Homo sapiens: one gene and its partners. The protein of the gene in region 2 purifies or fractionates together with the protein of the main gene of each other region. This does not show direct contact. Each region holds a gene or a part of one and is shown on either strand. Other genes may lie near its edges.

Region 1 (3,658 bases), on a different chromosome or scaffold from region 2:
CAAGGCTAGTCAAACAGGGGAGACACAGAGGCCAACTCGACTGCCCAAGGCTAACCAGATGGGGGAGGCAGAGAGGCCAAGTCGCCTGCCTAAGGCTAGTCAGACGGGGTATTCAGGCCTTGGCCTCCCCCTCTGCCTGCAGTGCTGCGTTACATAGCCTCATCTGTGTCAGCTGCCGAATGACCCACAGCTGCACTAAGCACTGAGCGATATCCCTTTTTCTTTTTGAGACAGGATCTTGAAGGTCTGTGGCCCAGGCTGAAATGCTGTGGCATGATCATGGCTCACTGAAGCCTCAACTTCCTGGGCTCAAATGATCCTCCCACTTCAGCCTTCCAAGTAGCTGGGACCACCAGCACGCACCACTGTGGGCGGCAAGTCACCCAGGTGCCGAGGCAAGAGACCGAGGGCACGAGCTGTTCCAGTGTAATAAAATATATAAAATAAGAATAGTTATACTAGATCTAGATCACAGACATGATTATATATGAATATCATTAATTAATTTGTAGCAATTACTCTTTATTCCAATATTATAATAATCCTCGCTCTACAATCATAACCTAGGAAAAACCAGGTCATACAGAGACAGGAGCTGGGGGGACATGGTGAGAAGTGACCAGAAGACAAGAGTGTGAGCCTTTTGTTATGCCCAGACAGGGCCACCAGAGGGCTCCTTGGTCTAGTGGTAACGCCAGCGTCTGGTAGGACGCCCGTTGCCAAGCAGACCATGGTCTAGCAGTAGCGTCAGTGTCAAGGAAAAACACCCACTACTTAGCAGACCAGGAAAGGGAGTCTCCCTTTCCCCAGGGGAGTTTAGAGAAAACTCTGCTCCTCCACCTCTTGTGGAGGGCCTGACATCAGTCAGGCTTGCCCGCAGTTATCCAGAGGCCTAATCGTCTCCCTGTGATGCTGTGCTTCAGTGGTCACGCTCCTAGTCCACCTTCATGTTCCATCCTGTACACCTGGCTCTGCCTTTTAGATAGCAGTAGCAAATTAGTGAAAGTACTAAAAGTCTCTGATATGCTGAAATAACGGCGTAAGCTGTCTCTCTGTCTCCTCTCTCTCTGCCTTGGCTGCCAGGCAGGGAAGGGCCCCCTGTCCAGTGGACACATGACCCACATGACCTCACCTATCATTGGAGATGGCTCACACTCCTAACCCTGCCCCTTTGTCTTGTATCCAATAAATATCAGTGCAGCCTGGCATTTGGGGCCACTACCGGTCTCCACGGCTTGGTGGTAGTGGTCCCCCGGGCCCAGCTGTCTTTTATCTCTTTGCCTTGTGTCTTTATTTCTACGCTCTCTCATCTCCGCACATGGGGAGAAAACCCACCGACCCTGTGGGGCTGGACCCTACACACCACCACACCCACCTAATTTTGAAATTTTTTGTAGAGACACGGTTTTGCCATGTTGCCCAGGCTGGTCTCGAACTCTCAGGCTCAAGTTATTCTCCCACTTCACCCTCCCAAAGCGCTGGGATTACAGCAGCCATGAACCACTGTGCCGGCCATTTTCTTCCATTTTTAGAGAAGGGTCTCACTCTGTAGCCCAGGAAGGAGCGCAGTGGCTATTCGTGGATGTGATCATAGCAAACTACAGTCCTAACCTCCCAGGCCCAAGTGATCCTCGGACCTCACTGAGTAGCTGGAACCACAGATCCCACCTATGGGACCATATATTCCCACATCACCATATCTGGCTTTTTTTTACTCTAACCTACTTGAGTATCAGAGGGCCCGACCCCCTCATGCCTCTGGTTTTCCAGATGTTTCCTACTGCTTTCATTTTTATTCATTTATTTATTTTGAGATGGATTCTCACTCTTGTCGCCCAGGCTGGAGTGCAGTGGCACAATTTTGGCTCACTACAACCTCTACCTCCCAGGTTCAAGTGATTCTCCTGCCCCAGCCTCCCCAAGTAGCTGGCACTACAGGCACCCATCACCACGCCTAGCTAATTTTTGTATTTTTAGTAGAGATGGGCTTTCATCATGTTGGCCAGGCTGGTCTTGAACTCCTGACCTCAAGTGATCCACCTGCCTCGGCCTCCAAAGTGCCGGGATTACAGGCGTGAATCACTACACTTGGCCTCATTTTTATTCTTTAGATGAACCTTTGAATAATCTGCTCATATTCCCAAAAGATCTTTTGTGTTTTGACTTGGTGTTGACTGATTTTACAGAAGTTAACGTATTTACACTATTGAAATTTTCTAGTCTAAAACAAGACTTATTTCATCTTCCTCAAAGTATAGTTTCTTCATTTAGAAATATTAGGCCAGACGCAGTGGCTCACGCCTGTAATCCCAGCACCTTGGGAGGCCGATGCGGGCGGATCACGAGGTCAGGAAATTAAGACCATTCTGGTTAACATAGTGAAACCCCATCTCTACTTAAAAAAAAAAAAAATACAAAAAATTAGCCAGGCGTGGTGGCAGGCACCTGTAGTCCCAGCTATGCGGGAGGCTGAGACAGGAGAATGGCATGAACCCGGGAGGCGGAGCTTGCAGTGAGCAGAGATGCACCATTGCAGTCCAGCCTGGGTGGCGACAGAGCAAGACTCCATCTCAAAAAAAAAAAGAAATATTAATCTTGGGCCAGGTGCGGTGGCTCACGCCTGTAATCCCAGCACCTTGGGAGGCTGAAGCAGGCAGATTGCTTGGCCTCTGGAGTTCGAGACCAGCCTGGGCAACATGACAAAACCGCATCTCTACAAAAACTACAAAAAATAGCTGGGGGTGGTGGCGTGCACTGTGGCCCCAGCTACTCAGGGAGCTGAGGTGGGAGAATCGTTTGAGCCCAGAACGTCAAGAGTGCAATGAGCCAAGATGGTGCCACTGCACTCCAGCCTGGGTGAGACCATCTCAGAAACAAAACAGAAAGAATAAATGTGACTCTTCTCAAGGTTCTTGGTACATATTGTGTGTACTTCTATTGCTGCACAACAAATCACCACCAACTTCAGGGCTGAAACCAGCACATCCACTTATCATCTTACTGCATTCGTCGTCAGGGGTGCAGGTGCAGCGTGGCTGGGACGCAGGCTGAATTCCAGGGGCCGGCTGCACTGCATTCTCATGAGGAGCTGGAGGACCCTCTTCTAAGCCCATTCTGGTTGGAGGCAGAATTTATTCCCGGTTCAAGGAATGAAGTTCCCGTTTTCTCGCTGCCCTAAAAAGCCTCTGACACTTTTACTGTCTGGCTTCCCTGATCAGGTCGGGCCCTAAAGAGCCTCTGACACTTTTACTGTCTGGCTTCCCTGATCAGGTCGGGCCCTAAAGAGCCTCTGACACTTTTACTGTCTGGCTTCCCTGATCAGGTCGGGCCCTAAAGAGCCTCTGACACTTTTACTGTCTGGCTTCCCTGATCAGGTCGGGCCCATCCAGGATCATCTCGCATTTTGATGACGTCAAACTCAATGGATGAGTGAGCTAATCGCAGGAGAGACACACCTCCCTCTTCCTCATTCCACCCACACTCGAGGGGAGGGTTACACATGGCTGTTTCCCAGGGGCAGGGATCGTGTGGGCTGTCTTGAGTCCTGCCACCTTGTTACCAAACCGCCTTCCAGGAAGATGTGTGCCTCCACAGCAACGTGTCCGAGCCCCTGATCCAGAGTCAACTGATATTCTTTGGCCTCTCATAGATGTAAATA
Region 2 (2,651 bases):
TGACTGTATTGATACAACTTTTAAAGTGATAACTTTATTCATATTATAAGCTTTGCCTAAACTACACTCCCTGTCAGTGAGTGCTGTGTCCTATACTACCTTATTCAATCCTCACATCAAATATATGAGGTAAAGGATGTCACCCTCACTTTGCAATTGAAGAAACTGAGGCAGCACTTTTGGAAGGAAAAGCCATTTGTAATTATCTACTTTAAGTTTCTACTGCTAAAATATTTTACTAGTTTTGAGCCAGGTGTAGTGGCTCATTCCTGTAATCCCAGCACTTTGGGAGATGAAGGTGGGAGTATCACTTGAACACAGGAGTTCTAGACTAGCCTAGGCAACATAGCAAGGCCTACATCTCAACAAAAAATAAAGTAATTAGCAAGGCGTGGTAGTGTGCACCTGTAGTCTTAGGTACTTGGGAGACTGAGGCAGGAGGATTGCTTGAGCCCAGGAGTTCAAGGATGCGGTGAGCTATGCTCATGCCACTGAACTCCAGCCTGGACAACAGAGCAAAATCCCACCTCAAGAAAAAATGTTTACGATTTTTACTATAATTTTATTATAAAGTTACTGATTGTTAGAAATACTAGGGTATAAAAAATATTTTGCATTCAAGAAACTGAAATATTTAATGTTGTCTAGAATGCATACATATATGAGAATGGTAAAAGAGACTGGAGAAATTCAAATTATGAATGTCATATTTTATTCAGCATGCTTGGGCATTTGTTCTTTTATCCATAGTGCTGTGGCATCATTAAAAAATTTTTAAGCTTGTCATTGACATGATTAGATTGTATTTTAAGTCTAATGGAAAGAATTGGGCTGGGACATGACTTCAAGCTCCAATTCCTTCACTAAATAAGCAAAGAGGTTTTGTTTGTTTGTTTTTAACTGTTTTATATTTTTAAATAAATTGTGATACATATGAAATAATATATACACACACACACGTATATGTAACATTAAGTTATAAAGCATAGTGATATAATGAACAATTAAGAACTCAAGCACCAGTATTTCTAACTTCCATTTACCTATGTTTTCCCTTGTGCCATTCCCCTTCTTCCCCTGACAGTTATTTTCCTGAATTATGCTTTTTTAGATTATAGTGTTATATATATGTTTTCATAAACTATATATGATTTAGTTTTGCTTTATTTTGAGCTGTGTGTTGTTTTCTTGGGACTTGCTTTCTAAAGTCACATTTTGTTTCTAGGGTTTATATATATTGTCATATCACTGTAGCTATAGTTTATTCTATTTCACTGCTGAATAATATCTGTGATATACTACAGTTTATCTGGTTTCCTGCTAATGAAACACTTTGGTTATTTCTAGTTTTTCCTATTGCAAATAATGCTACTACACACATTCTTGTGCAAGTACAAGCTCCTCTAGGAAACATCCCTAGGAGTCACATTGCTGAGTTGTTGAGTATGAGAATATTCACCTTTACAGGATAATGCCAAATTGTTTTTCAAAGTGGACATACAAAGGAATATTTCCATCATTAATGTATAAGCGCTCCATTGATCCATAATCTCTCCTACCTTGGTATTATCAAATGTCTGATTTTTGCCAACCTAGTATTTTAAAATGGTGTCTCATTGTCATCTTCATTTACTTTTCTCTAATTACTAATAGGATTGATAATTACATTGTTTATTTGGCCATATACGTGTCCTATTCTGTGAAATATCTATGCCCATTTTTCTGTGTTTTATCTTAATTGATTTGTAGAAATTCTTTGTATATTCTAGAATATAGATAATGTTGCAAAATATCTTCTTGCAGTTTGTGGTTCATCTTTTCAATTTCTTTTCTTTTGAGGAAAAAAAACTTTTAGTGTGGAATTTATCACTATGTTTGTGTCTTGTTTGAATCCTTCTCTTCTGCAAGATACTATGTGGCTAATGATTTGCCTGAGGTTTTTTGTATTTTCTGTGTAAGTAATGCCAATTGCATTTCTTTCCAGTTCTTATCCTTCTAATTAATTTATTGTTCTTTATTACTATGTTAAATAAGAAAGACCTCTAATGCAATATTTAATTGAAGCCAGTTATTTAATTGTAGGGGTCATCCTTCTCACGTTTCAATCTGATAATCTATGTCTTTTAAATATTAAGTTTAGTTTATTTACAATTGCTGTGAGTATTGAAATAATTGGATCTACTTTCTACCATCTTAATTTTTATTTCTATTTGTCCTTTTTTATAATTTTTGTTTCTTTTTTTGATTGAGGTTTTTTCTTATTCTATTTTTATTCCTATTTCAATTATTTTAGAGAATTGCCCATATCACTTAAAAAGTTCAAAGCCAAACAATGTTTAACCTCTCCTTTTTTACATTGTATGGACTTTGTATGCTGAAGCTTCATTCAGCCTCCTCCTGGTTCACATTGTTATTGTTAATATCATTATTTTTGTCTGTCGTTTATTGTCAGTCTACAAATTAGATATTATTATTGTTTTTGTTTTATACAGGCAACATTTATCTGGATTTGCATAGATGTTTACCATTTTCTTTACTCAGTGTTTTATCAAATACATCCTTTAGGAATTCCTTTAATTTGGTCTCTTGTTGGCGTATGTTCAGTTTTCATTTGTCTATTAAATGTTTATCACTTTTTTCGTGATAGGTTG
Region 3 (3,658 bases), on a different chromosome or scaffold from region 2:
ATGTAGACACTATTACTATCCCAATTTACAGATGTGGAAACTGAGGACAGAAAAGTTAAATAACTTGCCCCAAAACACACAGCTAAGTAGTGGCAGAACCAAGACTTGAATCCAGACAGTCTAGCTCATGAGTCCATGTTCTTCAGTATCAAATTATGTGAAAAGCGCAGGCTTTCTGGTTATTAACCTTACCTCCATCCCTAGGCACAGGCCAGGCTGATCTCTCTCTCTCCTATTCCCACCTCTCCCCACCTTCTTCTCTTTCTGAAAATAGCTTTAAAAGCCCATACACTGGTTAACCAAAAGGAGTCCCAAAGAGCCAAACAATCTTTCCTTGGTTTTGTTTCATCCGCTTTTCAGAAGCTCAAAAATTATAGAAAAGCAGAATTTTTTTTCTAAAAAACAAGATGTTTGACTGTAGAGATTTTTGAGTCCTACTTTGATTCATTCAACAAGTGAACACTGAGCTCCCGCTCTCTGCCAGAGGCACACTGGGTGTTGGAGACAACCACAAAGCCAACAGCAGGGCTCCTACCACATGGGCTTGCAAGAATTCCCTTACAAGTGACCACTACCCAAAACCAATCACGTCATGAAGATAAGAAGCACTTGCCAGGCCAGTTCCTTGGTTTGGAGGAATAGGGTTTTTTTGTTGTTTTTTTTTTTCCCCATAATTATCAGGGTTTTTTTTGTTTTTGTTTTTGTTTTTTTGAGACAGGGTCTTTCTCTGTCACCTAGGCTGGAGTGCAGTGGTGCCATCACGGCTCATTGCAGCCTTGACCTCCAGGCTCAGGTCCCCACCTCAGCCTCCCAAATAGCTGGGACTACAGGCATGCGCCACCACACCTGGATACTTTTTGTATTTTTTCTAGAGACAGAGTGTCCCTGTGTTGCCCAGGCTGGTCTTGAACTCCTGAGCTCAAGTGATCCTCCCACCTAGGCTTCTCAAAGTGCTGGGATTACAGGTGAGAGCCACTGTGCCCCTGGAGGAATAGTTTTTAAGAATTTAAGCACAGCAGAAATCCTGTCTCTGAAAAACCCTTTAGAACAAATAAATTTTATACTACCTTCAAATGTTACTGATACGCTTTGGCTTTGTGCTCCCACCCAAATCTCATCTCGAATTGTAATCCCACCTGGTGGAGGTAATTGGATCAGGGGGGCGGTTCCCCCATGCTGTTCTTGTGATAGTCAGTGAGTTCTCACGAGAGCTGATGATTTAAAAGTGGCAATTTCCCCTCCTTTCTGTCTCTCTCCTACTGCCGTGTAAGATCTGTCTAGCTTCCTCCTCGCCTCCTGCCATGATTGTAAGTTTCCTGAGGCCTCCCCATCCATGAGGAACTGTGAGTCAACTAAACCTATTTTCTTTATAAATTACCCAGTCTCAGGCAGTTCTTCTATAGCAGTGGACTAATAGTTACTAAGCTTTCACATCAAATCGGAATTACAAAAGTGACAATCCCCAAATCCCGAATAAGGCATGGCTAAAAATTTGTTTTGAAATGCAGAAAATACTATTTTTCATGAAAATGTTCAAAGTTCCTAGGTCAAGCCATGAATATTGATTTAACCAAGTCAATTGCTGAGCTTAGAGTAGAGGAAACGCTTCCCCCTTTCCTGGGCAAGGCACTGGCGAGAATAAATTAATAAATGCTTAATCATGGGATATGGCCCTTTCCACTCCTCTAACAACCCAAGGACCACACTGTGACACCCAATTTGGACAGCCCAAAATTAGCCAGAGTGCACTAAAGTCTGAAATAAAATTACTCACCACTCTCAATCAAAACCCCCATTCACAGAATGACTTATCCTTTGGTTATATGAAGAAAACAATTTAATTAATAAGCACTTTAGTAATCTCAGATAATTTATATACTTTTTAGTGGCTGCTTGCTGTCCTAGTTGAATCTCCATGCCATTTTTTGCAGTGTTAATTAAGTGAAATAAAAAGTTCTAGTAGAGTCAGAGATGGTATTTGGGGGCAAAGGAAAGAAAGGGGATAAAAATGATTAGTTGCTCCCTCTGATCAGAGACGTATCAAATATGTGGTCAGATATGGTTAGACACATATCACAGCCCATGGCTCATTAAATCATCACAATCCATTTGTTTCACGTGAGAAAATAGGTCTGGAGAGTTTAAGTAAATTGCCCGGGGTCGCACAGCTTTAAGGAAGGAAGCAGAACTTTAAACCAGGAATTTTCAATGCTCCCACCAGGGTGCTCCTGGGCGTGAGCGACAATAAACTGCAGCCTCTAACCTGATCCTTTTTTTTCCTCATCCCTGCTTCTGAACCCAGGTTTTCTAAAGGCACTAAATTTACTTTTTCTATTTTTTCCTTAATGCCTCTCATGGCAGTTAATAGCCAGGTCTTTGGTGGCAACTGGGGGAAACATGAAAAGGAAGGCGTTTCAATGATTGTATGGGTAGGTTGTTTATACCTGTGGCTTATAAGCAAATATTTTCAGCACAGGCTTTGAAAGAAATCATAATGACTGTAGGTGGGACATGCCGATGAAAAATATTTTTAGGCTGGGCGTGGTGGCTCACACCTGTAATCCCAGCACTTTAGGAGGCTGAGGTAGGTGGATCACTTGAGGTCAGGAGTTTGAGACCAGCCCTGACCAATATGGTGAAACCCCGTCTCTACTAAAAATACAAAAATTAGCCGGGTGTGGTGGTGCCCACCTGTAATTCCAGCTACTTGGGAGGTTAAGGCATGAGAATCGCTTGAACCCAGGAGGTGGAGGCTGCAGTGAGCCGAGATAGCGCCACTGCACTAAAAAAAAAAAAAAAAAGAAAAACTTTTTTTTTCTTCTTTTGAGATGAAGTCTTGCTTTGTCACCAGGCTGGAGTGCAGTAGCACAATCTCGGCTCACTGCAACCTCCACCACCCAGGTTTAAGTGATTCTCCTGCCTCAGCCTCCTGAATAGCTGGGATTACAGGCATGCGCCACCATGCCCAGCTAATTTTTGTATTTTTAGTAGAGATGGGTTTCACCATGTCGGCCAGGATGGTCACTGTCTCTTGACCTTGTGATCCACCCACCCAGAGTGCTGGGATTACAGGCGTGAGCCACCGTGCCCGGCAAAAAACATTTTTAAATACAAAAAAAGGTTGAAAAACTCATAGGAGGCATTACTGATTTTTCTAGGCTGTTGTAGCAGGACGAGCCGCAGACAAAACTCCTTAGACACCGGATTGAAGAAGGCAGACTTGCGTCTCAAAAGCCGAGCTCACCGCGTGAGCAATTCCCGTCCCTTTTAAGGGCTTACGACTCTAAGGGGGTCTGCGTGAGAGGGTCGTGATCGATTGAGCAAGCCAGGGGTACCTGACTGGGGGCTGCATGCACCGGTAATCAGAACAGAACACAACAGGACAGGGATTTTCACACTGCTTTTCTATAAAATGTCTGGAATCTATAGATAACATAACTGGTTAGGTCAGGGGTCGATCTTTAACTACCAGGCCCATGGCGTAGTGCCGGGCTGTCTGCCTGTGGATTTCGTTTCTGCCTTTTAGTTTTTACTTCTTTCTTTGGAGGCAGAAATTGGGCATAAGGCAATATGAGGGGTGGTCTCCTCTCTTACTGTAACTAAAAATTTATATAATTTTCTTCTTTAGAATTCTATGAAAGAAAAAAATCCCATTTTC

What was found.
Region 1: the proteins of DTWD1 (region 2) and SPATA33 purify together in Homo sapiens (affinity purification with mass spectrometry; one large-scale study listed by BioGRID and IntAct). This does not show direct contact.
Region 3: the proteins of DTWD1 (region 2) and GALM purify together in Homo sapiens (affinity purification with mass spectrometry; one large-scale study listed by BioGRID and IntAct). This does not show direct contact.

The regions. Positions count from the first base shown.
Region 1 is NC_000016.10:89,664,235-89,667,892, reverse strand, and holds part of SPATA33 (spermatogenesis-associated protein 33), read right to left. Parts: intron 1-3,658. UniProt on the Homo sapiens protein: Plays an important role in sperm motility and male fertility. Required for sperm midpiece flexibility and for the localization of sperm calcineurin to the mitochondria. Promotes mitophagy as well as acts as an autophagy mediator in male germline cells.
Region 2 is NC_000015.10:49,639,032-49,641,682, forward strand, and holds part of DTWD1 (tRNA-uridine aminocarboxypropyltransferase 1), read left to right. Parts: exon of another isoform or gene 1-1,792; intron 1,793-2,651. UniProt on the Homo sapiens protein: Catalyzes the formation of 3-(3-amino-3-carboxypropyl)uridine (acp3U) at position 20 in the D-loop of several cytoplasmic tRNAs (acp3U(20)).
Region 3 is NC_000002.12:38,669,039-38,672,696, reverse strand, and holds part of GALM (galactose mutarotase), read right to left. Parts: intron 1-3,658. UniProt on the Homo sapiens protein: Mutarotase that catalyzes the interconversion of beta-D-galactose and alpha-D-galactose during galactose metabolism.